2 separate regions of the Homo sapiens genome follow, and region 2 is linked to region 1. The links come from fine-mapping of genetic effects on gene expression. A gene starts in region 1. The other region holds a variant in brackets. All regions are shown on one strand. Distances are from middle to middle. Region 1 holds the start of KLHL29 (kelch like family member 29). Region 2 holds the start of LOC105374325 (a long non-coding RNA gene).

Region 1 (15,549 bases):
TAGCCTGGCCAACATAGAGAAACCCTGTCTGTACTAAAAATTAGCTGGGTGTGGTGGCACACTCCTATAATCCCAGCTACTCGGAAGGATGAGTCACAAGAATTGCTTGTACCCAGAAGCAGAGTTTGCAGTGAGCCAAGATCGTACCACTGCACTCCAGGCTGGGCACAGAGTGAGACTGTGTCTCAAAAAAAAAAAAAAAAAAAAAGATTTTACCTGTAGACTGGTATAGAAATATCTTAGATTTCAAATCTTGTTCTGACTCTTTCCTAAAGCTGCCTATTCTCCTATTTAAATTCTGAGTGTATCTAGTGAAATTTTACATTAGCCAGAACTCTCTAATTTTGAAGTTGTCCTGAAGCCATATCGACATTATTGAGGGTTTAGACTTTAACTAAAAAATACTCATTGCATTCTAGGAAAATTCACAGCCACCTAAAGGAGATGTGTCTGATTCGCAATCATTTTCCTGAATCTGCAATAAATGAATCTACAAAGGATTGAAATTTTTTTAACGAAAATTGTCTGGTAAATATTTTTAAGGGTTTGAGAGCAGTGAAAAATGTTAACAGGCCTACAGCGTTATACTTTTCCACAGTTAGCATTTGTTTCCAAAAGTCTAGAGGAGAAACCTTTTATCTCAACAATACTACATTCTTCCATTTGTAATAGTCTCTGATTTTTAAGTAGTTACTATTCAAACCATTTTATAACCTGATAGAAATGTTCCTTCCTTTCTACAGTCAGGTAACCCGGCATATTTGCACTATTTTCCTTAGAGCCTAATTGTGGCAAACCATTCATCATGAGTGCCTGAGGCCTCTACCTCATCACCTATCCTGTTTCATTCCTAAAAGCCTTCTTTTGCCCCGTGTTTTAACCTGTGAGTTAACCTGTGAGTTGCTCAAGGCCTCTTGGAAGTAGCTGGGTGATACATCTTAAATAAATGAAAATAAATTAGTGTGTTTCTGACCAGTTGGATGTGAACTGAATTTCCAGTAAATCAGCCACAGATTAAGTATCTAAGGGAATAGGTTCACTCAAGGGAAGCCCATGAATCCTTTTGTGATGCAAACTAGAAAATCCTTCTGCTTTACAATTTTGAATTTTCATATATCATATTTTCTTACAGTAAGGTGCACCTGGACCAGATGGTGGCTTGTATCACAGACTTTAGGCTATTTTTAAGACCCTCGGTAAATATTCAGCAGGTACCCTGGTGAAATCATCCCTTCCTTGTCACCCTCTGTTCCCTGGGCATGAAGCCTCAGCAATGCTGTTAACATTCATGTTTCCACTGGGTGTGGTCTCATAAATGTTTCCTCCTGGACCCCTCAGCACAGAAAGTGTGTGCAGCTTCACAGATTCTGGTAGGGGTGAACATGAAGAGGAGATACAGATTTACATAGTCCAGAGGACCCAAAATAGCTGAAACCACTAGATACTTCACACTGCAAACCGAGGTTAATCTCAGACTCTGAGGCTGCATGAAACTTGACCCCCAACACTTCCATCTCCAGGGAGAATAGAGAATGTGTGTCTTGGAAGACAGGCTGTCATTTGCTTGTGACCGTGACAGGCTACTTCAGCTGTGGGGCGGGGGGGGGGGGGGGGGGGGGTACGGTGATTACCAGTAACACCTGAGACAGAGCCCTGGACCCAGGCGTGTTCAATAAATAGCTGATGAAAATGAGATTCACTGCCAAGTCACCACGAGGTCATCCTGTCTCCTCCTGCTGTGCTCCCCCTGTAGCCCATGTGGACTGGGTCCCCTCTCAGGCTGCCTGGGTCCCAGCAGAGGGCAGAGGACAGTGGAGGGTCCCTGTCCTGGGGACGGTCAAGGCAGAGCAGTCACCACCTGTGCTGGGTGAGTGGTCACTGGCCTTCCTCTGGCCCAACTGGGGGCTCCAAAATGACCATAATTACAAACCTGATACTGGCCCTACGTCCTACCAAAAACCCAGAGGGAGATGGAAACAGTGGCACTGATGGATTCTAGAGTTGAACAGGAGGTAGGTGGGACCTTTACCTCTTTTTTCTTAAAAACAGCTTAAAAATACATTTATGCCAAGAGCTATCAGGGCTCAATCCTCTCTCAAAAGTCTCCTGAATTTTGGCCGGGCATGGTGGCTCAGGCCTGTAATTCCAGCACTTTGGGAGGCAGAGGCAGGCAGAACACTTGAGGTCAGGAGTTCAAGACCAGCCTGGCCAACATGGTGAAACCTCATCTCTACTAAAAATAAAAATAAAAATTCGCCAGCGTGGTGGCACACACCTGTAGTCTCAGCTACATCGGAGGCTGAGGCAGGAGAAATCTCTTGAACTGGAAGGTAGAGGTTGTAGTGAGCCAAGATCATGCCATTGCACTCCAGCCTGGGTGATAGAGTGAGACTCTGTCTCAAAAAAAAAAAGTCTCCTGAATTTTATCATTAGTGAACATGCTTCAGTGAGTGAAAAAACACTCTAAAATTCAAACTAAATTTTCCTTGCAATCTATCCTAACAATCGTCTGGGTCTTATTTTTAATAATCTGTCATAGAGAAACACCGGCCCCTTCTTTAACATTGAAAAAGGAAAGTGACATTTTGATCACTGTCAACAATTTAACAACCAATAACTATATACTGAGCAACTCTTCAGTCCATTCCTCCGGACACCATGGATGAAGAATCCCATTACCAATGGAGAGAGCGGAAGCTGCTCTCTTAAACGCCCAAGCAGTGTCTCATGTCAGTTTGGGAATCAGAGCCACCCAGGAAAATTGTTAGTGGCTCTGTCTAATTAGCACTCCTGCCACCTGCAAACAAGTGGTACTAAAAAAAGGTGCTGAATTCTTGCCATTGAGAATGCCAAAAAAAGACACCACTGGTTTCATTCTGACTCTTAGAATCTAATATTTCACTGATTTGGCGGGCTGGGGGTGGTGGGAGGAGGGGGGAAGGAAATACACTTTCACTTTCACCCAAAGGAAATGACTTAACAACAAGTCGTGTTTTAGAAACGATCATATGGTAATGAGTCCTCCAATCCAGCAATCCTCCCTCCCCTGACCTCCTGGCCCCTGCCTTCCCCTCTGCCTGGTCTAGGCTCCCTCTGCCTCCCACAGAAACTGCCTTGTCAGGTCCAGTCTTAGACCTTCCTCCTCCAGGAAGGCATCCTGACCAGCCTAGCTCTTAGGGAATCGTCCCCTTAACCCCACAACACTTGAGAGTCTCTTCCCCACAGGTGAGCACGAAGTTATATTTCTTGATAACAACTGCTGTTATCTTAACCCTTGTCAAGAACAAGAGCCAAGTATTGTATTAGGAAACCTCGATCACTTTTTGGAAAATAGGCAGGGTAAAAATGATTGGCGTATAAGCCGCCTTATACCTTCCCTGTCTTCCTGAGAGTCGCCAGCACAGAGTTGAGCAACAAAGCAGGTTCTCAGTAAATGGTTGATTGCATGATTGGCAAATGCCTTTGTGACACATCACAGAGCACGGTGGCCATGGTGAAAATTTGGCAGCTGTGACTCCTTACTTCCTGCTTTAATCAACGTCATGGGATTGAAATGCTGGACACACAGTAGGTGCTAAATAGATTTTTATGGATTGATTAACCACTGGAGGGACTGTGCCTTATGTGGGATTTATTAATGCTTTTGATGCCAAATAGGGGTGGTTTTAATAGAGTATAATGTGTTTAAAAAAAAAAAAAAAGAAAAACCAGCAAACACAAAACCCCAACCAGGACAGAGGCTGGCAGCTGCTCTGTTTACACCCACCGTGCTCCTGGAAACAGATGTCCTGTCAAACCCGAAGGTTTCTGATGAGGCTTCCACTCTTCCGAGTGACCTGAGTGTTCAGTAATCAAAGGGACCTGTGCCCTTCTACATTAGTGCTCTCTGTTCTATGACTGATCTCCAGTTATGTGTCTGGGGTAAAGACTTTTGCTGATGAAGGCAAAAATCAGCATCTACTGTATCTACTCCAAGGGAAAAGCACTGGGCTAATGACAAAAGAAACTGCATTTGTGTGTTTGGTGGGGTAAAAAGAACAGAGGCTTTGGGACAATCAGGCTGAAATTCCAGCACTGTCACTTACTGTGTGATTGCAGGTTCTCATCTACCCTCTCTGGAACTCAGTTTTGGGGGCTGATAACACCAATTCCACAGGTTGCTGTGAGGATTAACAAGATATCATGGGTAGAGTTCTTGGTACAGTGCCTGACATATAGTAGCCACTGGGTAAAGGTCCTTTTGTTGTGGCTATTATCATAAACACAGACAAGGACAGAAGTCCACCTTGGCCACTGTGGGTTTATGTGGCACCCCAGGTGTTCCTGATGTGACTTCCTCTGGTTCCTCCTTGGGTGATGGTGGCCTTTCCAGTACAAGTCCTTGTCTGATTGACTGCACAGATAATGGTCTATGATCTGAGCGGGGAATGGATGTCCTGGAGTGTTCCAGTCCACTTCCCTATGCACTATGAGTCCGCTCCTTCACTACCCATCTGCTTGGAGTGTACACATTAGTCCTGATCCCAGTGCCCAGATTGGGGCTCAGGACAGGGAGGGTTGGCTTTTGGAGAACACACCACCAAGTCAATCCTGTGTTTCATGGAGAAATCTTTGACCATGGTGTAAGAGGTTTCTGGGCACAACACACGAGTCCCATGAACCACACAGAGAGATCCATGCCAGTCATGGGGCCCATCCCATGGGCCACAGAGTAGAGCAAAGAATGACCCAAAAAAGATCCCAGACACCAGCAAGATCTACGTAGAGAGAGAGAGAGAGGAGACCCCTGACACAATGCAAATCCAGTTTATGTTGCCAAGACACTAGATGCGCTGGGACAGATCATGTGAACAACAGCACTCTGAAATGGAACTCATATGCAGACCAGCGCAGACCCTTCATAAATGGCTGTGTCCACACTAAACAGCTCCCAGCAGGGCAGAGCATCAATGACGAGGAAGCCTTGGATAAAACGAGGATGGGTGAGGACAGGGTAGACAAGCCCACTGGGAGTCTAATTCACACAGCTTTTCTCATTCTCCCTGACAAGCTGGCTCCCCTGGTGAGCTGTTACCAAACTTCAGCCCTGAAGAGTTTGCGGTGCCCCAGAACCAGCGCCCTTCGCACCACCATGGCCCGAGTAGGTCCTCCTCTGGATAAGACCTCAGCACAGCTCTCTTTTCTGATGCTGCCAGCAGGGAAATTGGGAGCATCCTTTCTCCTTCATCTGGAGAGGTAGCTGAATAAGGATTCTTGGAGTTCCTATTTTCTTCTTTCAACTGAGGATCATTCAAAATCATCTGTAAGACACTGTGAGTGCCTCACATTGCCAGATCTTAACCTATCCCAGACCCTGCAAACCTTGGCCACATTTCTGTAGTGCCTACAGCTGTCACATAGGGCGCTACTCCAGAATACGGCTGGGTGGACTTCTGCATGTTCACAGTCAGTGCATCCATGGAGATTATCTCAGAGGACAGCTTCCTACAGCGTGGATGAACAGACACACGCCTGTGGCTTTGTTCTCCTTCTTTTTGCATTGGGTTGACCTGTGTATCAATTTGAAATCCCAAGAAATCCCTCTTTTTTCCATTTTGCTATCTAGTACTCTTCTATCACTTTTCATATACCATTTGAAGGACATAGTACTCAAACCAAAGCTATCGATCACCTTCAGGTGTTGTCTGAGGACCCTTGGGGAGCTTTTCTCCCCCTCCCCCCCACTCCTGCTCCCCTTTTCGGCACCTCTGTCACCCTCTCTTAAGGTCACGCCAGTTTTCCTGGCTGTCGTCCTCATGAAGGGTGGCTTCCTCCCTGAAGTGCTCCGCTCTGTCCCCTCCCTTGAGTCCCGGGCTTCACACACACAAACTCTGTTGGATGTTTTTTCCAGGAAATGCAGTTATTCTGACACTAGTGGGCCATTTCCCCGGCGTCCTCATTCCATTTCTGACAGTGCTCCTGCTACCCTCAGTAGATTATTATTATTTATTATTTATCAGCCACGACACTGTACTCTGCTTCCTACAAAATATTAAAGAAGACACAATCCGTGCGCTGAGTTTACAGCCAAGGAGAGCAGAGGCCTGGATCAGACATCACAGGGGGGGAGCTGAGAAGAAAATATTTACCGGCTCAGTCCTCCTTGGCCCTGGTAGATGGAGGCAAGGACTGGCAAAGCCCTCCCCAGGCCAGCTCCTCCCAGCTGGGCCCCCACAGCCAGCTCCCCACACTACCTACAGCACCCCAACTCCAATTTCTAGCAAGGCCTCAGGCCTCAGGCCTTTACCCGGGGGAGCGGAGGGAGGGTGGAGGATGAGGATTGGGCCCTCAGGCCTTTACATTCAGACAGGGGTGGAGGAGGAGGGCAGGTACAGATATTTCCTCTGAAACTCAAAACCAGGTAAAGGGGATGTAGGGGAGGAGGGAGAGGTCGGGGAATAAAAACCAGATTAGGAGAGCGGTCGGGGTGGAGAAGACTGTGCCCAGAGTGAAATATTCTAGCATAATGGAAAAGCCCTCATTGGGGGTCCCACACGCCTCTGGCCAAATCTCTTCTATTAGGGTTAGAAGTTAGGGTCTGTGTAGACAGCATGTGTAGACCGAGAGGTGGTGGGACTGAGAAGTCAGTGTAGACAGTGTGAGAGAGAGCGAGCTGTGGTGGGGGTGAGTAGTCGGTATAGACATCAAAGGCTGGTCAGGCTGTTAAACAGAGAAGGCTTCCTGGATTCCTAAGGGTCAGTATGAACAGAAAAGTCGCGCGCCCCAGGAGAGGCAGGGCTGACTCAGAAGGCTGGTGGACACTTTGCAGGGCTCTCCCTGGTCCTTCAGAGGTGTGGACAATTCCTGCTCCTTTCCAAGGCTGGAGTGTCATAAAGAGGGCGGAAGCTGAAAGACGATTGGACTTTTTCCTTCTCAAACTTTTCCGCCAGTTTCCTCAGGTGTTGAGAGCAGACGGGGAGCTCGCCTCAGTCCCGGGCCCCCAACCCTGGGCCAGCAAGGCCAGGAGGCCACGGCGGAGCAGCCCGTGCCACGCGCCGTGCGTCTGCCGGGCGCGGCCGCGGAGCCAGGCGAGCCGGGGGCCACCGCGGGGGGCGGGGGCGGCGGACGGACGGACCGACGGACACACCCGCGAGCACTCCAACCTCGGACCCGGCGCGCGGCAGCCGGGAATCCCTCGGGCCGGGGAAACTGCGCACGGGGCCCGGCCTGGCCGGGCCGGGCCAGAGGGCCCCGCCTCCCCCACCCGCCACCCCCGCCCACTCGGGCGCCCGTGATTGGCTCCGCCCGCCCCTGGCTGCGCGCCGAAGCCCGCCTCCCTCGCAGCTAAAGCAGACGGTACCCGGAGCGGAGCGAGCCAGAAGGGAGCATGGTCCCCGCGCCGCGGCCGCGCCAGCCCCCGCGCCGCCGCCGCCGTCCCCGCCACCGCGGATCTCGCCGCAGCTCCAGCCCCGGCCCCGGCTCCGCAGCGCCCGTCCGCAGCCCCGGCGGTCGCCGCGCTTGAGCGCAGCCCCCGCCCGGAGCCCGAGCCGCGAGCCCGGAGCCAGCCCCAGCCCCGCGGCCGCCGCGGCTGCGGGGAGAGGGCGGGGGCGATGCTGCCGGAGCCGCCGCCGCCGCCGCCGCCTCGATGAGAGCCGCGCCGCACCGCTCATAGCCGCACAGGCTGACAGGCAGGAGGACCGACTTCCCTCTCCCGGGCATCCTCCCTGGGCTGCCGGGAGGCGGCGGCGGCGGAGGAGGAGGAGGAACGAGGGGAGAAGGCGGAGAGCAGGAACGCGAGGAGGAGGACCTGGATCCGTTTCCTCCGGCCAGGACCCGAGCGGCCCCAGCCACCGCTACCCGCCGGCGCTGTCCGCTCTCCATCAGCCCTCCTGCGCCCACCCGCGACCCCGGGCTCTCTGCGCGTCGGGCCGGGGCCGGAGCCGCGCGCCGGAGGTAAGAGCCGGGCCGGGCTGGAGCGCCTCGGATGCGGCGCCGGAGGGAGACCCAGGTCCTGGCCGCCGCGTGGGGCCGGGCCGGGCCGGGCGTGGGAGCGGGGCCGGAACCCGGAACCCTGGGCTCGGCTTCGGCGGCGGCGGCGGCGACAGGAGCCTCCCGCGTCTGGACTCGCAGGCTGCAGGAGCCCTTGCGCCTGCGCTGCTCCAGGGGGAAAAAAAGGGGGGGAAAAAACTTCCTGCCCCCGGGTGTGTATGCACCGGGGCTGCCTGGGGCCACTGTCACGGTGTTCGGAGGTGCTGGAGGCTTGTGTGACCCCTGGCCGGAGCAGCCCCCCTGCTGGGCCCGGCGGCGCGCGCCCCTCTCCAGGCCACGTTCCCCTGAGCGGCCCAGGGCCCCGGCCGGGCAGGAGACCTGGAGGCGACGGAGGGCTGGCCCCCAGGGGCGGCCGCGCGCACTGTCCTTTGGGGAGGTGCGCGCCTCTGTGCAGCGAGAAGCCAGGTTGGGGTTTTCTGCCCCTCGCGTCCTCTGATCTCGCATTTGGGGACTGGGTCTCTTTACTCAATCCCAAGTAACTTTCGAGGTAGATGAGCTCGAAAACCGTCGGGAGGGAACCCGCACAGACCTTATTGTGACCCACCCCACCCCGACACACACACGCACACTTCCCTTGACACCTTGTGGGTGCCAGCGTGTTGTGGGGGGACGCGGAAAGGAGAGCTCACGGGGACGGCGAAGCGGCCAGGAGGTGGTGTCGTTGGGGAGGGGTTGTTGATGTGTGGGACAGGGTGGACCTGGAGATGTGTAGTGTGGGAGTGTGAACGCGCGCCCCGATGGCCTCGGGGGGCCGGGGGAGCCCAGGGCTCGCGTCCCGGTCTCCGTGGCCTGGAGCGGGCTGAGAGCGCTAGGGTTATCTGCGGTCGCCGCGCGGGTGCCCGCGCTGGGCAGCGTCGGCCCCGGGCCCCAAGGGAGGGACGTGCTCGCCTGGGGCCGGAGCGCGGGGCTGGGAGCCGGGGTAGGTCGGAGGTGGCTCTTAGGGCAGGTCGCCTCTGCGTTGCCTGGGGAAGGCGGGGACGCGCTGCCTGCCTGCGGCCAGCCGTCTCGGAGGAGGGGGTGGCGGCCACGCGCGAGTCTCGGATGCCTGGGTCCACCCGCTGAGAAGCCAGTTGTCGTCCCTGGGCTGTGGAACCAAGCGGCAGACGCGGTCCGTTGGCGGGCCCTCGCGCGGGCCCCCAGAGATGCTGATGGGTAAGGAGCTGCCGCCGCCGCCGCTGCCATCCCCGCCGCTCTGCAAACGTTCTCCTCCCTCCCTCCCGTGCTTGCGCCGCGGCGCGCCCCGGGCGAATCGTGGACGCAGGTATTTATGTAGCATTAGGCGAGACCTCGGCGCTGGAGGGACCAGACCGTGGAGGACGCCGAGCTGCTGCTGCCTGCGAAACTTCCACTTCGGCAGCTCAGCGGCATCCCGGCCCGCTGCTGCAGGTTCCAGCCTCTCTCCAGTCCAGCAACGCTGGGATTCGGACTCCTCTTGCAATGACAGATCTGTCCTGGTTACGGCTGTATTTATACTAGTTTCAGTCTCTTTAAAGTCATCTGTCTAGTCACTACAGAGTTTCTTCCTCGCCGTGTGGTCTTATCACTAACTCAGCCCTGGGAGGGCAGATTTGAGGAATTGCTTCATTTTCAGATGAATGACAGCAGACTTGTCCCACCTCATTCCTGATTTATTATTATTATTATTATTATTATTATTATTATTATTATTATGGAAAGAAGGTATAGAGCTTTTTAATTTTTTTGTGAGGGAGGAGAATGAACAATTTTATAGATTGTTCTTTCCGACACTTAGAGAAAACATGTCCAGTAAGCACTAGTGAATACTTTAAAGGCTGGTTGGCATGCGTGTATTTGATTAGTCCATAATCTAGGTGTTTATACAGGTATGGAGCTGTGTGCTACTGATGAATAGTCTCCGTCCCATACATTGTGCTGGAGTGCACTTGATTTATCACCCTGCTATAAATCAGGGAATTACTAGCACATGTGCCTTTTAAACTCTATATGAATTTAATGGCATTTAAATTGGTTTATGGGCTGATGCATCTAACCAATTTTAATAACTTTTCTGCACAAACATCTTATAAACCATATTTGCCTGTGATTAAGAAAAACATTTTCTTCTCCTCGGTCTCTCGGTTATGGAAATTTATAGGTCTCCAACTTTCATTTGCAAGCAGCAATCCAAACGAAATACCTAGAGTTTTACTGAAATAAAATATCCTATGGTAGCCATGGTAACAAATAGATTAAGGGTTATTGGTTTTCATCTGAATGTGATGGGGGGTGGGGATCTAGTGTTGTGTCTTTTTAATTATGTTTCTAATGAGTGGTGGTCATACTTCAAGTACTCAGTGTGGGAGACAAGCAAGACTGAGAATTCAGGTTTGTGGGAGGTTTATTGAAACAAAGACTAGTAGAGCCCAGGAGAATGACTTTTGCTAACTGCAGCTCCTCATATCTAGGAACAAAATGGATAAAAACCTTTTTTTTGTTTTTCCAGTAGATGAGCATTGAGTCAGTCACTTTAAGACCGGAAAATGCATTTTGCTTATAAACTATTACCAAAGGAACCTCTAAATCCAGCCTGTTTTCTAGGAATAAACATGTTGGAAGTGTGGCGGTTGGTGTGGATTGAGTGTCACCGTTGTTATCAACACCTGTCAGTTTAAGTGAGGCACATCATTAGTCTATTCAAATCTTGCCTATTTCAGTATTCATGCATTTCCATGGTGATCCATTCATTTTTATTTAGTCAACCTTATAAATCTTTGGCATCAATTTTAGTTGTGCCATCTTTTTCCTTCTTTTATCAATTGATTTGGCTACAAACCATTCCTAGTTTAAAGTATCTCCTTCTTTTTTCCTGCTAGTTTCTAAAAGCCTACACTATTCCCAGCTACATACAGATATAAAGGAGTTAATTTTTTTTCATCAACTCAAATGGCACCCCTAATACTAATGTCATTTTTTGGCATCTCATTTGATATGTATGTGTACATGGGTTTTTTTTTTCTTTCTTTCAGCAGGCTTACTGTAAAGCTTTCTCACTTTTTGGCTGGGAGACATCAATTCAGTCCAGCAGAACTAACTAAAGTTTTTCCTTCCTTCCTCCTTTTTGCTTCCTTCCTTTTTTTCTTTCTTTCTTCTTCTTTTTTTTTTTTTTTTTTTTAAAATCCCAGTACTGTTATGGCTTAGGCATTCTTTGTGTCATCGGTTGTATCTGGCTTGGAGAGACTTCGAGACTATATTAGAGCAGGTCTGTCCTGGGGTCTTTTCTAGTAGTGGTCAAAGCCAGAAGTTTTCAGAACAGCAGAGGATTTTCCAAATACAATATATATTTAGTCACAGCATATAGTGCCCCTAGGATCATAGTAACATTGTAAGTCCACTGAACAGGCAGTTTTACTTAAATGCGAGTGATGATTTTGCTCACCCACTTTCAACTTAGCTTTCTAATGATGCAATCCCATGCTAATCACAACCCTGTATATTTCAGAAATATCAAGGCAAGCATTAGCACGCTACTGACTTATTAGGATCAGGCAAAGTAATTGGAACACTTAAGTTCAAAGTCAGATGAAGAAATGGAATTATAACCAACTTTGTGATTCTGTAATCAGTCAACTAAGTGCCTACTTGGGGATAGGAGGAGGAAGAAACATCATGAATAAGAAATCCAGCCTTTAGTTGTGCTGAATGAGGATAAACCAAGGCAGTTACTGTGTAAGAGGACTGGAGAACAAGAAATGTGTTAGTGGATGGGAGGACTGCTGGAGCCCAGGAAGTTGAGGCTGCAGTGAACAGTGATCACGCCACTGTACTGGGCAACAGAGCAAGACCTAGTCTCAGAAAAAAAAAAGGGGGGGGCGGAATATATGTTTAAACAGATAAATCATATGTTTCCCAGGCCTGTCTTAGCATCTTTCACTGTGCTAGACACATATCCACGCAAATGTTTGGAAGCTGGTAGAATATCTGTAGTTTGTGTAGAAGATAGTCAGTTTTTATTTCTTAAGTAATCTGGGGTCATCGCCTGATGTGCTAAAAAATTAGGTAGCATAATTCCTGGAATGTACTTTTGTCTGAAGTAAATTTTACCATAGAAAATGGTCTTAATTTTGGTTAACAAGGAAAGATGTATCCAAATTCTTTACCTGCACCTTAGATCAAAAATGCTGAGATCAGGACCACCCTGAAAGCAAACTCTGTGGTTCTTCCTACAACCGCCACAGGCTTACTTCTCCCACAGTAAATGCAGCCTGTACTTTCTTCAAGGAAACCACTTGAAAACAGGAAAACTGAAACTGCCAATTAAGATGAGGCAAGTTGATCACTGGAAGTAGCAACAGAGTTCTTTGTGAAATCAATTTTATCGTTTGGGAGCATTTCCACCTTTAGGGTAGAAAGGAGAAGAGTTCTCATTTTCTGTGCGAGAGGGTATCTGCATGAAATTCAAGTAGTTCAGAGACTCTCGACTGTGCAGCTGCAAATGATGACTCACAAGCTGGAACAAGAACGGCGAGCATGGTTGTAACGGCCGGGGATCTAGCGTGCGCAAAGACGACAGCCGCTAGGCCATTTACAGGCTGCCATTGGCCTCACAGGTGTCTATTGTTATGATTTGTAGGTTTTTGACATTTTAAAATCACTGATCATTTTAAGGATATATGTATGTGTATATATATATTTGTAAACAGATAATCACACATATATATACACATACATATATATAGTTATATATACACAAATATATGTTCTGTCACTTTGTTTAAACCATGGTTTAAAAACACATAAAATTTACCATCTTTACTTTTTTTTTTTTTTTTTTTGAGAAGGAGTTTCACTCTGTCACTCAGGCTGGAGTGCAATGACACAATCTTGGCTCGCTGCAACCCCTGCCTCCTGGGTTCATGAGATTCTCCTGCCTCAGCCTCCAGAGTAGCTGGGATTACAGGCGCCTGCCACCACGCCCAGCAAATTTTTTTGCATTTTTAGTAGAGACGGGGTTTCACCATGTTGGCCAGGCTGGTCTCGAACTCCTGACCTCAGGTGATCCACCCGCCTCAGCTTCCCAAAGTGCTGGGATTACAGGCATGAGCCACCTTTACCATTTTTAACTGTGCATTCGTAGCATTCACATTGTTGTGCAAGCAAGCTCCAGAACCCTTCGTCTTGCAGAACTGAAAGTCTATACCCGTTAAACATCATGTCCCCATTCCTACCTCCCTCAGCCCCTGGCATCCGCCATTCTACTTCCTGTTTATACATTCAACTACCTTAGATCCCTCAGGTGAGTGGAATCATGCCACATTCATCCTTTTGTGATGGGCTTGTTAAACTTAGCATAACGTCTTCCAGGTTTATCACATCTTGTGGCATGGGACAGGCTTTCCTTCCTTTTTAAGGTTGAATAATATTGCATTGCATGTATGGGCCACATTTTGTTTGTCCATTCATCTGTTGATGGAGATTTGGGTTGCTTCCATGTTGTAGCTACTGAGAATAACGCTGCTGTGAACAGGAGTATAAGACATCCTGTTTTCAGTGTTTCTGGGTCTATACCCAGAAGTGGAATTGCTGCTATTTTGATGTTTTCTTTGTTTTGAGACGGGGTTTTGATCTTGTTGCCCAGGCTGGAGTGCAATGGTGCAGTCTTGGCTCACTGCCACCTCTGCCTCCCGCGTTCAAGGGTTCAAGCAATTATCCTGCCTCAGCCTCCTGAGTAGCTGGGATTACAGGCACGTGCCACTATACCCGGCTGATTTTGTATTTTTAGTGGAGATGGGGTTTCTCCATGTTGGTCAGGCTGGTCTCGAACTCCCAACCTCAGGTAATTCGCCTGTCTCTGCCTCCCAAAGTTCACTCTGGGATTATAGGCATTAGCCACCGCGCCCAGCCCTATTTTGACTTTTAACACTAACAAATTATGTAAGTTTTCAATTGAAGAGACTTGGTGAGAATGCAGTCACACAGAATACTGTCCAATAAAGAATGCAGTAGATGTTACTGACATTTGTTCTTCCTTTTCTGTGTATGCATTTCCTCCCGAGTGTCTCTGATCTCATGCTTTCCTTGGGGGCTTGTCCTAGTTGCAGTGATACTGCAGAGGGATTAGAAACATGGGCTTCCTGTCCACGTTGAAGTCCCGTCTCCAGTGCTTCCTAGCTGTGTGACCTTGGAAAGATCCTTAATCTCACCCAGCCTCAGTTTTCTTTTATGAAATTGGAAGAAGCAGTAGTGGCTATCTAGGGTGGTTGTGAGGGTGAAAACAGATAACCTCCATAAACCCACATTACAGTGGCCTGGGGAAGTGCTTTGCAAAGGGGGCTTAGGAAAAGTAGCTGTGGAAGAAGAGACAGCAGCAACCCCTAGAGATCTCAGAAACTGTAGATGCCAATCCTGTTCAATTTCAATCATAAATGTTTTAGTCATACACCAGGGCATGTATATATATTATGTTCTGTAAGTCTCACTATCAGTACTTATTCTGAAAAGCATAAGACATTTGCATCACAATTCCAATAGTTAAAAATACCCTTGAGTTGATTTGATGTGTGAACTTTTAATTCCATCTTTAGTATCATAATTTTAGAGTTGATGTGGATTTTTGAGGTCAGCTAATCTACCTATTATTCAATCACCAAACCTTTATTAAGCCCCAATAATATAATAATAATAGCTTCCAGTTATGGCTGCTCACTATATCCGAGTACTTTACATATATTATCTCTAATCCTCATATCAATGCTTCGAGGTAGGGATTATCCACATTTTACAAATGAAGATGAGGCTCAGTGGTAATCAACTGGCCCAAGGCCACAAACCTAGCCACGTTGTTCAGCTGGGTTTGAACACAGATCCCTCAGCTACCAGTCTGTCTGTGTTTTCCTTTCTGCACACACACCCCTATTCGTGTGTGCACATGCGCCTATGTCTTTGTTTTTTCCCATGCATCTGCACCACTTCATACTGCCTGTACCAGGTACTGTGTTGTCTATACTAATTAACATTTTATGTAAAATCAATCTAGTAGAAGGAATGTGAGCTAAAATAACAATATTAATCAAGTCTGACCAACATGCATGATACCTTTTGGATTTGCGCACCTGCTTCCATTTACTGTGGTTTCTGGAAGGCTAATGAGAAAAACTTTTAGGTGTTTGAATGGCGTCTGTTTCCATCTTGAGCCAGCATAGTAAATAAATAGCAAATCAAAGAATAAAAACAATGTAGAAAGGGTTAAAGATTCATCTAGAACCACTAATCGCTGACCCGGGCTTGTTCATGTTTGCATACCGATGCATAGCCTGGTGCCTGGCACAAAACTCTGGTAAAAATGTTTGCCTGGAGAAGGTGTCAGATAACAGACATCAAAGCTGACTTTTTGGATGTTCTTTTCACTCCGTGGCTGTGTAGTCACATGTTCATGGTTTGTCATTGTGTGGAATTTTTGATGCTATATTTGGGCATATATCTATTAAATATGCTTATTGATGAATTGTAATCTGGATGGAATCTTCTAGGATTTATGATTTGAGACTTTGAAGACTAATTCTC
Region 2 (15,549 bases), 150 kb after region 1:
CACCTGTCCTGATGTGATTGTCTTACTGTGGCCTGGAGCTGGCACGAAGCTTCCTCCCGATGCAACCCAGCCACCCTTCTGGCCTCATCTGGCCATGGCAAGTCACGTCCCTGACATCCGTGGACCTGCAGCCATTGTGTCCTCAGAAGCGTGGATGTTGGGCCCTAATGTTTGCCCTCCTCTGCTTCCTTGAGAGGAAGGTAAAGGCTGAAAGGGAAAAGCAGGTTAGGAAAAACCTGGAATAGGGATCCCATCGTGAGGAGTGTTAAGTCATTGAGTAGAAGATTCTGGAGCCTTTGTTCTAGAGGAAGCTGCATGGAGTGTGCAGTCTGGCAGGGGATGCCCACGTGCAGTCGTGGTGTTCATTGCCAGCGCATGCAGTTCAGAGGAACGTGGGCGGTCGGAGGAAGCGTCACAGGGGAGGGGAAACCAGAGCTGTGGTCAGGGCATGCGGGAGGGGTGGCATCGAAGGCAGAGGGACCACAAATGCTGCGCTCTTGGCCTGGCAGCGGGACAGCCCATGCGTGACTAAGGAACGCCGAGGAGGCACGAGGCTGGTGCAGAGGGCTCTGCAGGGGCCGGGGGAGGAGAGCCTGGAGAGAGCCTGAGACGCCCTGAATTCCAGGTGAGGTGTCTGGACGAGATCCAGCAGATGGTGGGAAAAACCACTGAAGGTTGGAGGGGAGAGAGAGGAGCCTAGTGGGCTGGTGGCCTGCTCTGCCCTCTGCCTACCAGAGTGACCTGGCCTCCTCATGGTCATAGAGCAGCAGCAGCCGTGGGTCCAGAGCAGCACCTTTGTGGCCTGCCCTCCACACCCAGCTCACAAGTCTCTAGCGTGGGGTGAGCTGGGGTTGGCTCCGTGGCTCCCAAGAGCCCATTGTTAACGTCTCTTCCCAGCTCCTCATTAGGAGACAGCACCTTGGTAGCTCGAAACGGCCACAGTGGGAATATTTATACAACAGAAACTGATGAACGCTGCATGCACATCAGGGTCTGGGTGGGTTTTTTTTGTCCACCACCACCAGCAGAGCCGGGTGTTAAACATTTACCAGTATAGCTCTGGGTAACAGGGAGCCCCCGCAGGGTTTCGTGCTCGGGGTTAGCATGGTGGGCTGAGCAGTGACCACACGGGGCTGGTATCCTGCGTTGGTGGACATGTGTTGTGTCACTTCCCTGCTAGGAAGCTAGGATGGGGAGTGGGGATGGAGCCTCAACCAGGAGAACTGGGCGACGGTGGCCATGTTGGCCCATTCTGAAACCAGGCTCCTTAACATGGGCTCCCAGACCCTAGACACGGCTCACACGGAGGACACGTGTGTTTCCTGCCTCTGCTTCATCACCTGAGCAGGCCCTGCCCAGCTACACTGGACCTCTTTCCAGTCCTTAAATGCGACCTGCTTCTTCTCCCCTTTAGAGCCAGCACGTGCTTGCCCCTCCCTCAGAATCACGCCCCCCAGCCACCCCAGGGTGGGGGCTGGGCAGCATTAGTATACCACACTGTGTCTGCAGGGCCCTCGTGGGTGTTGCCCAGCAAAAGCCCCGCCATGCTGTCTGCAGCATCCCTTCTGCCTGCTCAGAGACTGTGGAGCCCAGAGCAGGGAAGGACTGCCCTTTCCTGGGGTGGGTGGAGAGGCTTGCCTGCTTAGAAAGCTGTGAGCAGAACTTAGAGGCTGTGAGCAGAACTTAGAGGCTGTTCATCTCCGGGCACAGAGCTAGAGCCTTTCTCAGCGAAGAGTCGGCTTGGTCTTGACAGCACGGTGAAAGCAGTAGGATTGGTTCAGTGTTCTCGAGTTCCAAAACACGCAGCCCACGAAATTGTCCAACAACCTCGCCACATGGGTTGTGCTCTCATTTCAGAGGTGAGGAAACTGAGGGCCAGGTGGTTAGCTTACACCCCAAGCCTCCATAGGAGCAACTGGTAGTCCCCAGGCCTTGATCTTGATTCCTGGAGCCCTAAACCCCGAGTCAGCTTTCTGCATTGAAGGTTTTGGACCATTCATCCCAACCAAACGTAGACATCAGGAGCAGCCCAGGCTCTGCCAGGAGATCAAGGTGCAAGGCCCCCAGGCTACTGCAGACCCCATCACCACCACCCCTCTGGGACCTGCCTCTAAAATGGGAGTTAATGGCGGCTGTGAATACACTGTTGCATTTGTTGCTCTTTTGGGAAAAGAAAAACCTGGCTTCTAAGAGCTGTTGTATTTTATTTTTCTGTAAAGAAGAAATTAATTTTAGTCTTTCTTTTTGGTTTAAAATGTTGTTCTTTGCTTTTTCTGCCCTACAATTTAAAAGGAAACATTTGTCTGTTGAGAAAAGAAATGGTAATTATAGACTAAAAATTGTTTCTATTCTGATTTGAAAAAGTGACAAAAAAAAATTCCATCGCACAGATGGGGCTCTGCTGACGGAGGGTGTTTAACAATGAAGCCCTGGGCCGGTTTGGGGCTCGGAATGGCTGGAGGTGGGTGTGGGATTGGGTGTTGTGGGGCGAGGGGCTGTTTCCGAGGCTGGTCTCCATTTCCGATGCTGGTTAGTCACTAGTTCCTGCACTCTCCGTGTGGTTCAACAGTGGGAGGAAGAAGACGTGACTGGAGATGTCACCTGTGGACCCTGCAGCCCTTATAAGGTGGGCTGTACAGGACGAGGCCACGCGCTCCCTTGCATGGACCCTGAGCCCAGAGAGCCTCCAGGCTTTATTCCCTTAGCCCAGAATTTCACTTTTCAGCCTCCCAAAATTACAATTGCTCCAAGTCCTTTGATCAATAAAGCAGGAAACTGATTAGACTGTGAAATTAAACTAATAATGTCACGCTGTTAACCCTCAATCAATGGGGACTGAGCTCAAAGTGAAGGCTACTTCCTAGATCCATATTACCCTTTGGACACACGTATTTACTTTTTTAAAGAAATCCTAGGGGCGCACACATCCCCAGACCGCCTTTCTTTCCTGCCAGCGCAGCCTGACTCGCAGTGCTATCTCTGCGGCCACCCTGGCGGTGCTGCCGTGTGTGTGGTGTGGAAGGCCAAGATAGAACCGAGTCTGCAAGTTGGCTGGGGTAGGGGTGCCCCTTGGGCCTTGGGAGTGGGACTCAGAACTTCTGCTGAAAGTGTGATCCTCATGGCCCCCAGCCCACCCTTAAGCCTCTTGTCACTAGAAACCTCTCTTTGGGGATGATGCTGAGCCACCCTCTAACCATACGTAGGGCCGAAGTATATAGTACTGGCTGAAAAGCCCCTTTTTACTAATTTTTTTTAGAGACAAGTTCTTGCTCTGTCACGCAGGCTGCAGTGTGCAGTGGCACGATCATAGCTCACTGAGGCCTAGAACTCCTGAGATCAAGGGATCTTACAGCCTCAGCCTCCCAAGTAGCTGGGACTACAGATGCACACCACCACACCTGGCTAATTTTTTTCCCCATTTTCTGTAGAGATGGGGGTCTTGCTATGTTGCCCAGGCTGGTCTTGAACTCCTGGCCTAAAGCAATCCTCCCGCCTCAGCCTCCCAAGGCACTGGGATTGCAGGCATGAGCCCCTGCAGCTGGCTAAGAGCTCCATTTTAAAATGGATATTGGGTTCACTCCACCACTATGCATGCTGCAGTATGGGGTTTGCTGAGACCTTTGTGTGTTCAGTCTCATGAGAGAGAGCAGGGGTCATGGTTTTTCTTATTTTGCTTCTCCCTTCCCCCCACCTCAGCCCCTGTTGCCCACCCGCCCCCACCAAAGCACAGGCTTGGTATAGACCTGGCTGATTGGAGGTGATGAGCATACCGAAGAGGCGAGTGAGGGCAGGTGTGAGGGCTGTTTTCAAGGGCTGGTTTGGGGAGTAGAGTATAATAGGTCTAGTACAGAAACAGGACCTAGCTTAGACCAGCCTCCACCTGCGGGCTGGCTCTGGGGTTCATGGAGGCAGGGCTGAGCCCGCCACCCGTCCTGAGACAGCCTGGGGGGCCGCATTTGCAGACTGAGCTCTGGTCGCAGCATGACAAAGGCTTGCCCGTTGCAGTATCGAGGACTGAGTCTCAGGTGTGCCCATGTCCTGAGAGGCCACGGCTTGTCACTCACCAAAGTGGTGAGCATGGATCAAGCTAGGTGTCAAACACAGCCATCAGGACCGGCTCAGCTGCGGCACTTCAGTCCGGCTCTTTCCATGTGCTCTTCAATATGTGGCTTCAGTTCTGCAGGGCTGGAAGGGCAGTTGCTATTACCCCCATTTAAGGGATAAATAAATTGAGGCTGGGTGGTTGAGGGGTGTACACAGTCACACTGCCAAAGAGGCAGGGCTGGCTCTAGTACTGTGGCGTAGAGCCCTCTGGGTGCCTGAGTTCTCTCCAGGAGGCTGTTCTGGAATCAGCGAAGTCTTTATCCTCTTCTGGCCTTGCCATTGAAGAGGAGGAGCTCGTAAGCCCTTTCCATGGGCCCTCCCACGGCTTGTCCTCCCAACCTGTCAGTTCCATCACGCTGGAATGTTGCCAAGGATCAGACCCCCTCTCTAAAAGTGGTGATGGTATTTAATAACTAATTACTCTAATGATCCTGCAGAAATGCTGGAGACCTGTTTTAGGAGAGATGTCAATTAGAGCCATCTGCACGGTGAATAAAGGAGCCCTCCCCCAGCTGTACTGTTGAAACATGTTAGCGTTTTCCTACCAGCGGCCATATGGTACTTAACGAAAGTGAATTGTTCACACTGCACAACCCGCGCCTCCTGATGAATACTAGCATTTTGTTTTGGAAAATAGTTCTTCCATCGTGTGGAATATTTTTCAATGCAGTAAGTAGCAAGTTGGAAGCCAGCAAGCCCTTGAATGCAAAAAGACTCCCATCACCTCAAGATGCTCTTCCCTCCATCCCAGCCCATCCCCTGCCCCCGCCCAGCTGCCAAGCCCAGCTCCACCCCAGCTCCCACATCCCTCCTGGGCCCAGTTCTTAGCATCTGCTTCTGAATCTGCTCAGGAGAGTGGAGGCCACCAAGGGTTCTTGCCCCATCCCACCAGCTTTGTGTCTGTATGAACTTAGAAATGGAAAACCTGAAGCCATACACAGAGCACAGAGCTCTGTCTGGAAGGATGCAGACATGGGCAGAGTCTCCCCAGAGTTGAAAAGTAGGGTGGGGTGTTTAACTGGGTGTGTGGCCTCACAGAAGGGTTCGTTTTCTATCTGTAGGATGTTTGTTTTAAGAAGTGCAAAGTTCAGGTTGACACCTGGATGCACAGTGAGGTAGAGGGGGTAAGCTGGGACTGTATCTGGGACTCGGCAGAAGCCTGGCTGAGAAGCCTGTCTCCTCCTCGTCACCTGTACAGACAAGTTTCAAATAAATAGTGAGCGAAAGTCATTGCCACGTGGTGGCCAGACAGCTGGGACCAGGGTGCAGCCACCCTGTGGGTTCCATTAACCAAAAACAGGCATGTTGGGTTCTTGTTGCCTGGGACGTTTCAAAAGCAGACCACTGCCAACATGGGACCTATTTGGGGGGTGAGGCTCAGTTTTGTGATGCTCAAGGGAGAAGAACAGGCGACCGTCCCCATCAGTTCCATCCCCCACCCACCCACTACCAGATTGCTCTGGCAAGGGGACCCTCCGCCTCCCTCGTGGGGCTCTGTGGCCTCAGTGAGCTGAGACCCTGCCTCCGAGCCGCCAGGACGGAGCTGCTTTATTGCAGTCTGCCCTGGGACCAACGGGATTTCACTTGCCAGTAATATCTATTCCGGAACTTTCCCTAGAACCAGAGTCACTTATTAAAGCTTAATAAAAGGCCAGATTGACTGCAGTTAGTGACAGAGAAGACCTGCCGCAAGTCCTGGTACCCAAGACGCTCTTCACAAAACCGTGGGCCCATAAATCTCACTTATTTCCAATTCCGCAGCAACTGATCCCAAGTTACAATAATGATCCTAGGTTCAGCTGAACATGTCCTTAAAGGAAATCCTTCTGGGTGAAAAATAGCAGAAATGTGCTCCCATCTGTTCCTCATCAGCAGACTGCACTATACTATTTGCTTTCCACGTCTGTGCCCTGGATACTTTCTCACCCTCTTTGACACCTGGGACCATAGAGATGTGAACCTGAAAGAACCAAGTCGCCACGACTCCCAAGTGCCACCTCAGTAAGGGACCTCAACGGGACGACCAAGGCCCAGTGGAAGCCTCGACGGCCCTTGACCATGGAAGCTGCCCAGAGCATCTCAAATAAGTCAGCAGCCTTTCCACTGGGCCTATTCCACAACGACCCCCCACAGACCAGAACCCGCTCCACTGGGGCCATGCCTGGGAGTTACTCCAAAGAGTTAACCTTTCCTGGTGGGAGAGGGGTGGAGGGGAAGGCTGAGGCCATTTGACATGTGCTGCCTGGTCTGAACATGATGCTGTGCTCAGACACTGAATTTGATGAAGTGCATTGTAAAATTTAAAAACAAATTTAAAACTCTATTAACTCCCTGTAATGGCCTCCTCCTGCAGTACATAGACAACACCGGCTCACTGGCAAGGAGAAAAAGTACTCTGGTTTGCAGTGTGCTTGGCTTGAAGCAGAATGGAGACGGTGGGAGCTGGTGAAGGGAATGGGGAGCCCACGCACCCTCTGCACCCAGGGCAGCACCCAGGGCGGCACCCAGGCCCCTGCTAGTGGAGCTTTGTGGGATGTGCATCGCCAAGGTTAGACTTTTTCTTGCTCCTATGTTAAAATCTCACTTTCACTTTCCTTTGAAGCTAAAACACTTCCTTCAAGAATGCACCACTGGAGTGACAAGATTGTAAGATTATCTTAACTTGGGACTGAGGCCTGGGCGGTGGGGAGCTCACTAGAGGCCTGTGGTTTGGGGTCAGCATGGGGGTGGGTGTCAGGTGGGAGGAGGTGTGTTCCCAGCCTCACCCACTACACCCTCTGCACGGGGAGAAGGATCAGGGCAGGGAGACTGTTCGCCACAGGCCTCTGCAAATCGAGGCGCGTTCAGGGTAAGGGGAGGATTGGCCCGGCTCCAGGCTACCAACTGGAGAGAGACGAACTTTTGTTGAGAAGGGAGACAGCCCCACAGCTGTGTGTGCACGTGGGCCGAGAGGAGGAGCTCAGCTGGCGGTGAGAAAGCCTGGGGGCCGAGGGGAGGGTTCCCTCTACGTCTCTGCAACTCACAGGCCCCCAAGCTGAGGAGCAGAAGGTGCTGCCTGGCC[T/C]GGTCTTTGACGAGTTCAAGGGATTTTCTGCCAACCAGTGGCTTCCCTGTGTGAGAGCGTCTCTCAGTTTTTCCTGAGCACGTAAAGTGGTTTGGAGATATTGGGGGAGGAAAAGGTGTACACATACGGCAGGCCTGGGGGTCAAAGGCAGCAGAGAAACCATGCGTATGTGTGAGTGTGTGCAGATCTGTGTGTGCACAAGTAAGCAGTGCCTTCTGATGTGGCTGCTTGTGGGCTAGTCCTAGGGCATGGGTTTGATGCGGACTCTTGCATCCAGGGAAGTATTTTTCTGAGAGTTCCCCCACCCTCTGGGGCTGGCATTCTACCCCCTTTGGAAAGAAAGCTGGGATGGTCTAAGCAGGGAGGGGTCCTGTGGAGACTTGTAGCTCCTGGCCCAGCAGGATTCATGGCATTTGGCGTCAGAGAAAACGTGAGCCTCTGCCGGGAGTGAAGCAGCTGATGCAAAACAAGGAGCCCTGGGTCGTAGATGCAGCTCTGTGCAGCCTCTGGGGAGCCTTGGCGCTGGCTCGCAGATCAAAGCTGGGAGACCTGGGAGCTCCCTGAAAGCTCCTTCCCTGGCAGCTGCAGATGGGGTGCGGCGTTTGGGCTGGGTGATGGCATTTGTAACAGTGTGAGGACCCCCCACTCTCCCGGGACTAACAGTGTAAATAAGAATTGGGGCATTTACGCCAATGAAGAGAACAGAATTTCCTTGTGCTGACAATCTAGAAGATCCGCTTGTGGACAGTTGAAATGCTAATTATAAGCTAACTCTGTTTTCAACCTTTGTGAACCCGGTTTGGGCTATTTTGTATCAATAAGACTGCTTTCAGAAAAAACAAATTTACTAATTAACTCCCTTTATTTTAAATACATGAGACTTTCCTATGGTGTCTGTTGTTTTTTTTTTTTTAAAGAAACGTGTGCGCTATGAGGTGTTTCCACAGCTCTTTTTGGGGTATGTAATAGTCCTCCTGATATTTTAATTGATATTTGAACCAAGTAAGGACCCGCCAATAGTTGAAAGTCCCCGGTTTCGGGGATGCCTTTCCAAGCAACCAGGGATTCCTGTCTGACATCCCGCTGAGCAGCACCCATTTTATCGTGTTTCTTCCCACAGCACAGGAAACAGGACAACCGGGGCTTCAGATCATGAGACCTGGTGTTGAATCCAGGTACAATGCTTTGTGAACCTGGGAAGTCACTTGGCCACATTGCAGTTAGTATGACTTACCTTGTAGGGTCCTTCTCATCATTGTTATTTTTATTAGATAAAATCACATTTGTGCAACACCTAGCCCAATGCCTGTTCCTTAACAGGCATTTAATAAGTGATGGTTATTATGTCTCAATGCCTTTGTTGACACATTATGTCTTCCCAGCGTGGAATTTTCCTCTCTTTATTGTTTTCTATTGAAATCCTTTGCGTCCTTTCAGAGGCTACTATGAATGCCCCCACCTCCGAGAAGCCTTCCTGTTTGGCCTTAGCCAGAATGACTTATTTCTTTGCAGCATCACAGATGCTAACTTCTGTTCCAGCCCAAGTTCCCGTCTTCCTTCTCTTCTGCTCAGTGTCTCTCCAGCTACACTGAGCTGCCCCTTTCCTGCCACAGCAGGGCCCAGCTCTGTGTATGGCACAGAGGCTCATAGAGTGGATGTGTTTTGAGTTGTTGAGTGAAGCTGAGGTCCCACAGTCTCTTTGAGGCTCCAGTGCTTCAAAACTTCCCTTGACAGACTACTGTGGGTGACTAGTCAACTGCAGAATTAGAAAGAAAAAACAGTGCCTTTTCTGGTCACTTAGAGCTGAGGGCATCTTGGATTTCACAGCCTAGAACCCCCTGCAGGCTTTTTGGATCCCCTAATCCTGTTGATGCTGCAGCAGTATCGACTGGCCCTAAAAGCAGCTGCTAAAATGCGTCTGGCACAAAGGAACTTTCTGGGCTGATGGAAATGGTCTGTATCATGATTGGGGTGGTGGTTAGGCAGGTGCATGCATTTGTCAAAACTCATCAGACTGTGCACTTAAGATTTGGACAGTTACTTTATGGACATTATATCTCCATAAAATTAGTTAATTTTTTTAAAATGTGGCCTGACCAGACAGGCTGGATACAGGGGCCTGTTGTGGTCTTCCTGTGGCCTTGGGAAATGCAGCTCATGCCAGCATGGCACAGGATTGCTCTGGGAGGAAAAGAGACAGAACAGTCTCTGCATTTGTGGAACTTAACCCTTTAAGTCCTGAGCTAGGACTCCACACACAGGTGCCTCGCCACCCTCTCCCAGGAGACCTCACCCTGGCCTGCCTCCAAAGAATCAGAGCCAAGCCTCACACGGCCACAGGCTGAGGCCTGCCTCTCACAGGAGAAGAGAAGATTAAAATTAATGTAAAATCTAACAGATATTTGTATACCCATGTTAATAGCAGCATTATTCACAATAGCCAAAAGGTAGAAGCAACTCAGGTGTCCATTAATTAATGAATGGATACACAAAATGTGTTGTATACATACAATTGAATATTATCTAGCCTTAAAAAGAAAGGGAATGCTATAGTCATGGATACCTACTACAACATAGATGAACCTTGAAGACATTATGCTAAATGAGATGAGCCAGACAAAGGAAAGGATAAATATGGTATGAGTCCACTTATACGAGGTACCTAGAGCAAATTCATAGAGACGGAAAGTAGAACGGTGGGTGCCAGGGTTTCGGGGAGGCGGGAAAGGGGAGTTATTGTTTTTAGTGGGCAGAGTTTCAGTTTGGAAAGATGAAACATTTTGGAGGTGGATCGTGGTGATAGTTACACAACATTGAGAATGTACTTAATGCCATTGAAGTGTACACATAAAATGGCTAAAATGGTCGGTTTTAGGTTTTGTATATTTGATTACAATAAAAAGAATAAAGAAGAGCAACGAAAGAATCCCAGGCCTAAGGCAGCCTCCTGGCCCCCTTAAATTTCAACATTTTAAATGTTATCATTCAGGGGACTGCTTAGCAGAGGATGTGGTTTCTGGTCTGAGAATCAAAATGTGGGAAACAGAAGCCCTCTCTGACTGCCAGGCCCTTTCAGAGCGACAGGTATCCTTCCTAAATGCCAGGTCCTTTTGTCAAGACAAAGGTGGGTGACCACATATCGCGCCACTGGTTTAACTTGATTTTCCCATCTGACTCTCTCGGGCAACGTGTATCCTGAAGCTGATGATGGAGGGGTGAATTTTACTTTATCGCCCCAGCAACTCCCAGCATCATGATTGGGGTGACCCCATCCTCAAGACCCAAGGGGCTCCAAGCTGCGGAAATTAGAGTACGCTGTGTGGACGGCAGCTTGGCTGTCAGAGCGGGTTGGCTCCTGGCCTGTAATTCAGAATGATACCCGGGTACTTGTCGCAGCAGGGGGCTGGTGCCGGCCTGAGCAGGCCTGCCGTGGAGAGTTTAAAGGAGGCTGACTCTCCCCGTTTTGCCTCAGGGACCATTTTTGATTTGTTCTTTGAATGGCAGAAGGCCTGGCCCATCAAACTCACAGGCAACCCTTCCCATGCTCAGAGGAGAGAGAGCTCGGCACAGCAGCCTGTGAAGGGGGCTGCCAACCTTTTCGTTTATAAAATACTGCTGGATTCTTGAGTCCTGATCTCTCTCCGTGAAGGTTTGCTGCAGTCAGGCCGTTAGGAGGACAAAGAAAGAATCTATTGGAAGGGCCCGAGCCTGTGCTGTGAAAAGAAGCTCTGTACTGTTTATGTTCTGGTTGATGTAGATAAGTAGGTACCATGCCTATAGTAAAGGAAAGAGAGTGACATTCTGAGACAAACTTCTGGTTCCCTTCCTACTAACGAAATAGCGAAAGACAGATCTCACACACACACACACACACACACACACACTCTCTCTCTCCCTCTCTCGCTCTCTCTCTCTCCCTCTCTCGCTCTCTCTCCTTCAGGTGTGGTGTAAAGGGCTGTTCTGGACCTGCTGGCATCCCCATTTTGTCCGTTACGTCCCTGTTCTTGGCAGAAACTTGAGGTGCACATGCTACTCTGGTCCCACGCCACCTTGCCCCTGGATGCCACTTTCTTGCAGTCTGACTTTCTGTCTCTGAATTTGCATTTGTCCTGAGTTCCCTTTCAGTCACTGGTTGCTCTCGGGCTCTGTCGGCTAATTCAGTTGGTGGGTGCCACTGCCACCACCCTTCATGGGCAGTGCTGCCGCTTCTGTGCCCCTGGCTACCCTCTGAACACTCTGTTGCCTCAGTGGGAGGGGTCTGCTTCCCCCTTTTGCCTTCTCCATCATACTACAGTGCAGGGAAGGGCATTGAAAGTCCTTTAGGAAGGACGAGTAACTTCTAGTTGAGTTTGAGCTGCCGATTCCTGCGGTGGGCAGAAACTACACACACACACACACACACACACACACACACACACACACACACACACAGGCACGCACACGCTTCTCCAGCAGATCGGGAGGAGGCATCCTGTGTAACCACTCATGCCCAATATTATGTCAGGTGCATTAGTGCTTAGAATGCAGAGTTGTTATAACCATACAAGATACTAGGATTCATCTGTTGGCAGAATTTGGAGCACAGAACTGCAGGGACTAAAGGAAGTAGGAGGCCCCATCTGGGTATTTGGGAAGGGATGGTTCATCGCTCTTTGCTGAGATGTGGGGCATCTGGAGCTTGGCCACCTGCAAGAAGCTGCATGTCGGGTGGGAAACTGGAGAGGCAGGGCTCAGGGCAGCTGGCACCACCAAGTCTACTTAGGGATGGAAGGCTGGGTTCTCAAGGAGCTCATTGGATCCTGGTTTGACACTTTGGGCTGTTAGAGGCTTTGGAATGTGTCCAAAGGGTGGCAGGATTCATGCCACAGCCTTCATGACAGTAGGAAATACTTCCAAAACCCCATGATGATTTATGTGTGAGGAAAAAGGAGGCTCTGGTCTGTAAAGGAAAGTTGCTCCAGAAGCACTGAGGGTACCTACAGATCTCACTTTGAGAATTAGAACGAGGGTGGATCACTGAGCCCGTTTGGCTGGACCCCAGTTAGTATTTGGGAAAACAGACCAGAAGGAGCAAGGACTTACTCAAATTCATACCACCAATAAGTAGCAGAACTAGGATGGATCTCGGGTTTCTCTTGACTCGTAGTCCAGGATTCCTTTGGCCACAGAAATAGAATTATGAACCAAGTAAGGCAGCCCTTCTCAATGGATTCTGCATTTCTAAAAGCTCTCAAGTGATGCTGGACCTAAGGACCACACTTTGAGAAACAAAGATGCCTGACGTCAGTTTCACTTTTAAGGAAGCCAGATGGCATGGGTGCAAAGCTGGAATTCCTAATTCTCCCTCCTATCTGTTTGGCTCCATTCTTATTCTGTTTTATCTTTATCAAGATGTCTAAAAGCTTTTGGCCTAGACCCTCAACAAGGAGATTATCTGTCATCCTTTGTCAGCTCCTTGCTACCCAGATCCCAGCCTCTCTCTGCCATACAGGAAGCTAAAATCGTGACTGAAACGTCCATTCCAAACACTCAGAAGAGTGTGCCTGTGGCTTTGTGGGGGTGAATGTGAGAATGATCTTTGGTTGTGGGGAGGGACACACTGTGGAATATGTCACTCTGTTAGCTGTCTGGGCTGCACATTTGTGACAGTGTAACAATTTGTGCCATTGATCTATTTCAGAATAAGAGGTTCTGAGTGGCAAGATTGTCAGGGCCTTTGCTTGTTCCACCAGTTCTCACTGATCTGGAAACCTTTCCTAGAGATTTGGAGCCTAGATTGAGAGAAAGAACAGAAGGCATCTCTGAGTGACTGACAAAACAAATAGGCATCACCAAATGTGTGCACACAAAATCTCGTTCTTTCTTCATCATCAATCCCTCCGGCTTTAATTCAGAATTGTTCTTTAAAAAATACAAATTGACTATAAGATTGATTAGATGCATTCCAAATTCAGAGCAAATTCTGCAAACTCCTGATCTGGCAAGGATGAAGAGAAGGGCTGGGAAAGATCGTACCAGCAAGAAAATTTTGCTAGAAGCTAATCAGAGGTGAAGCAACTGCCAAACTCTAAAATTTTATATCCACGCTTAGAAAGCACGGCAGCCACCCAGGGCTGATGAGTGTAGGGACCCTGGATCCCTGAGTCCTGGGGATCGTACTGGTTCACAGCCCTAGGTGTCTCTGTTACGTTCAATTCTGTTCAGCAGATTGGGAAGTATGCAGTGTACTGCAGAATATTTTATCTTTTAAATGGCTAAAATGTTTTATTCTTGTTTAAGATTGGATGTTGAAAGGAATTGATTTCAGTTATCTCAAAAATATGTCTGTATATAAGAAAAATGAGACAATAATAATCCTAGCAGACTGATGATGCTTTGCTAGCCTTATCCTGCCTCCTTTTTTTTTTTTTTTTTTTTTTTTTTGGAGACAGGGTCTCACTTTGTCACCCAGGCTGGAGTGCAGTGATGTGATCTTGGCTCACTGTAACCTCCGCCTCCCAGGCTCAAGCCGTCCTCCTGCCCCAGCCTTCTGAGTTGCTGGGACTACAGGTGCGCACCATCACACCAGCTGATTTTTGTATTTTTTTTAAGAGATGGGGTCTCACTATGTTGCCTAGGCTGGTCTTGAACTCCTGGGCTCAAGTGACCCCTCTTCCTCAGTCTCCCAAAGTGCTAGGATTGTAGGCATGAGCCACTGCACCTGGCCATTATCCTACCTCCTTCTGACTCCTTCATACATTGTATTTCCTCATTCTCTTTTTCCAGCCACTTCTTGGCAGTCTCCATAGTTTAGCTTAGGTATACTTTTCTCTTTCCACAGTCTGAGCGATTATCCCCTAAACTCCAGTGACTCCAAAAGCTTGTTTCTCTAGGCTCCAACTTCTGTTAAGCAACCTTCGTCCCATCGTTCCACCTCAGACCTCCATCCTCCTCTGTAATCCTCATTTCAGGGAACAGGTGTGCCGCCCACCAGCCCTGTGAGTTGACTCTGGCATCCTCCCACTTTGGAACTTCCTCGTTTCTGGCTCCTAGTTGTTTCCCCTGCCCCATGTTAGACCCTCCTCAGTCCTTGCCTGGGCCATTTGCCTTCATGTCCCCCAGGATCTTCTGTGTCCAGGCTCCCGTCCTGCAATCCCGCCCCCTGGTACCTGCCCAGCCCCCCAGAAGTGGTCACTTTCCCTCACACTTCCTCTGCCGGGGCCGTGGTCCACACCTGCACTGTCCAATACAGTAGCCACTAGCCAGTATTTGTATCAATTACAATTAAATAAAATGTAAACTTCAGTTCCTCGATCATGCTGGCCAATTGTCAAGTGCCAACAGCCCCAGGGGGCTTCTAGCTTCCATATTGGACAACACAGATCATAGAAGCGTTTCCACCATTGCAGAAAATCGTACTGGCTAGTGCTGGTCCACATTGTCCTTTCCTCTTGAGCATCTTTCTTTCCTCTCCTTCTCTCCAAATCCTCCCTCTTTCCCAAAGAGTCACATAGACACATCCTTACATCCCAAACCTCATCTTCAGTAGCGCAGAACTTGGCACTTCTCTGAGGGTACACTGGAACATAGAACTCTTTTGGTTGCAGTAGATGGGAACCCAACTCAAACTAACTGAAGCACAAAAGAAAATGTGTTAACTCTTGTAATGGAGAGGCACAACTCAGGCTTCAGCACAGCCAGATTCAGTCACTCATGTACTGTTGGACCTCGTCCATCCCTCCTCCACTGCCCTCTGTGGCCAGCTTCATGCTCTGTCCTACAGACCGTCCCCTCCCCATGACCAGAGAGGACGGCCAGGAGTAGGCCCTGCTTACATCTTTTCTGGGCATGATCCTGAAGGAAGAGAGACCTTTGTTTTTGGAGTTCATATATCGTATCTATGGGATTTGGGTCTGTTTGGGTCATGGACCCTGATTCAATCCTTATGGCCAGGGGGATAGAACACCCTGATTTGCCTGGCCTGGTCACGTGCTTACCCCAGGGGTGGGGCACAACACCCAGCCATAGCTAATGGGCTCCCTGTGGGAAAGAAAGATCCTACTATCAGATAAAGGAGGGAATGGATCAGACAAAATGCAGATTTCACAACTGAATTCTGTTGGGAACCTTTCTCACTTTCTTCGCTTGACAGGAATCTGGATGCCTGACAAAGTATCTGAACAGATGTTCAACAAATATTTGGTGTGTTAACGGAGGGAGACGTGAATGGATGGATGCATGGGTGGATGCACGGGTAGATGGATGGATGGATGGATAAGTAGATGGACAGAAGATGGGCAGTTATATGCCTAGCTATGGAGAAGGCCAGAGGAGAGAACCGGGCTCCAGAACTCAAGGGGCTTCCTTCCATGCTCATCAGAAGCCTCTGCCTGTCTTATGGTCTC

What was found.
Region 2: its variant is fine-mapped to the expression of KLHL29 in whole blood (TOPMed, PIP above 0.99).

Annotation. Positions count from the first base shown.
Region 1 is chr2:23,377,849-23,393,397 of GRCh38, forward strand. It overlaps KLHL29 (kelch like family member 29), which reads left to right and starts at 7,331. Exons shown (of 14, transcript NM_052920.2): 1 at 7,331-7,932. It overlaps LINC02923 (long intergenic non-protein coding RNA 2923), which reads right to left and starts at 9,470. Exons shown (of 6, transcript NR_187213.1): 1 at 3,373-9,470. RefSeq lists enhancers at 2,727-2,946, 5,270-5,564 and silencers at 5,270-5,564, 7,068-7,417, 7,588-8,447, 8,688-8,807, 8,828-8,997 and 1 more.
Region 2 is chr2:23,525,871-23,541,419 of GRCh38, forward strand. The region is part of intron 2 of KLHL29 (kelch like family member 29); the gene reads left to right. LOC105374325 (a long non-coding RNA gene) reads right to left here and starts at 4,438. Exons shown (of 2, transcript XR_939831.2): 1 at 1-4,438. RefSeq lists enhancers at 7,124-7,183, 10,047-10,922. The variant T/C (reference allele first, on the strand shown) is at 7,166.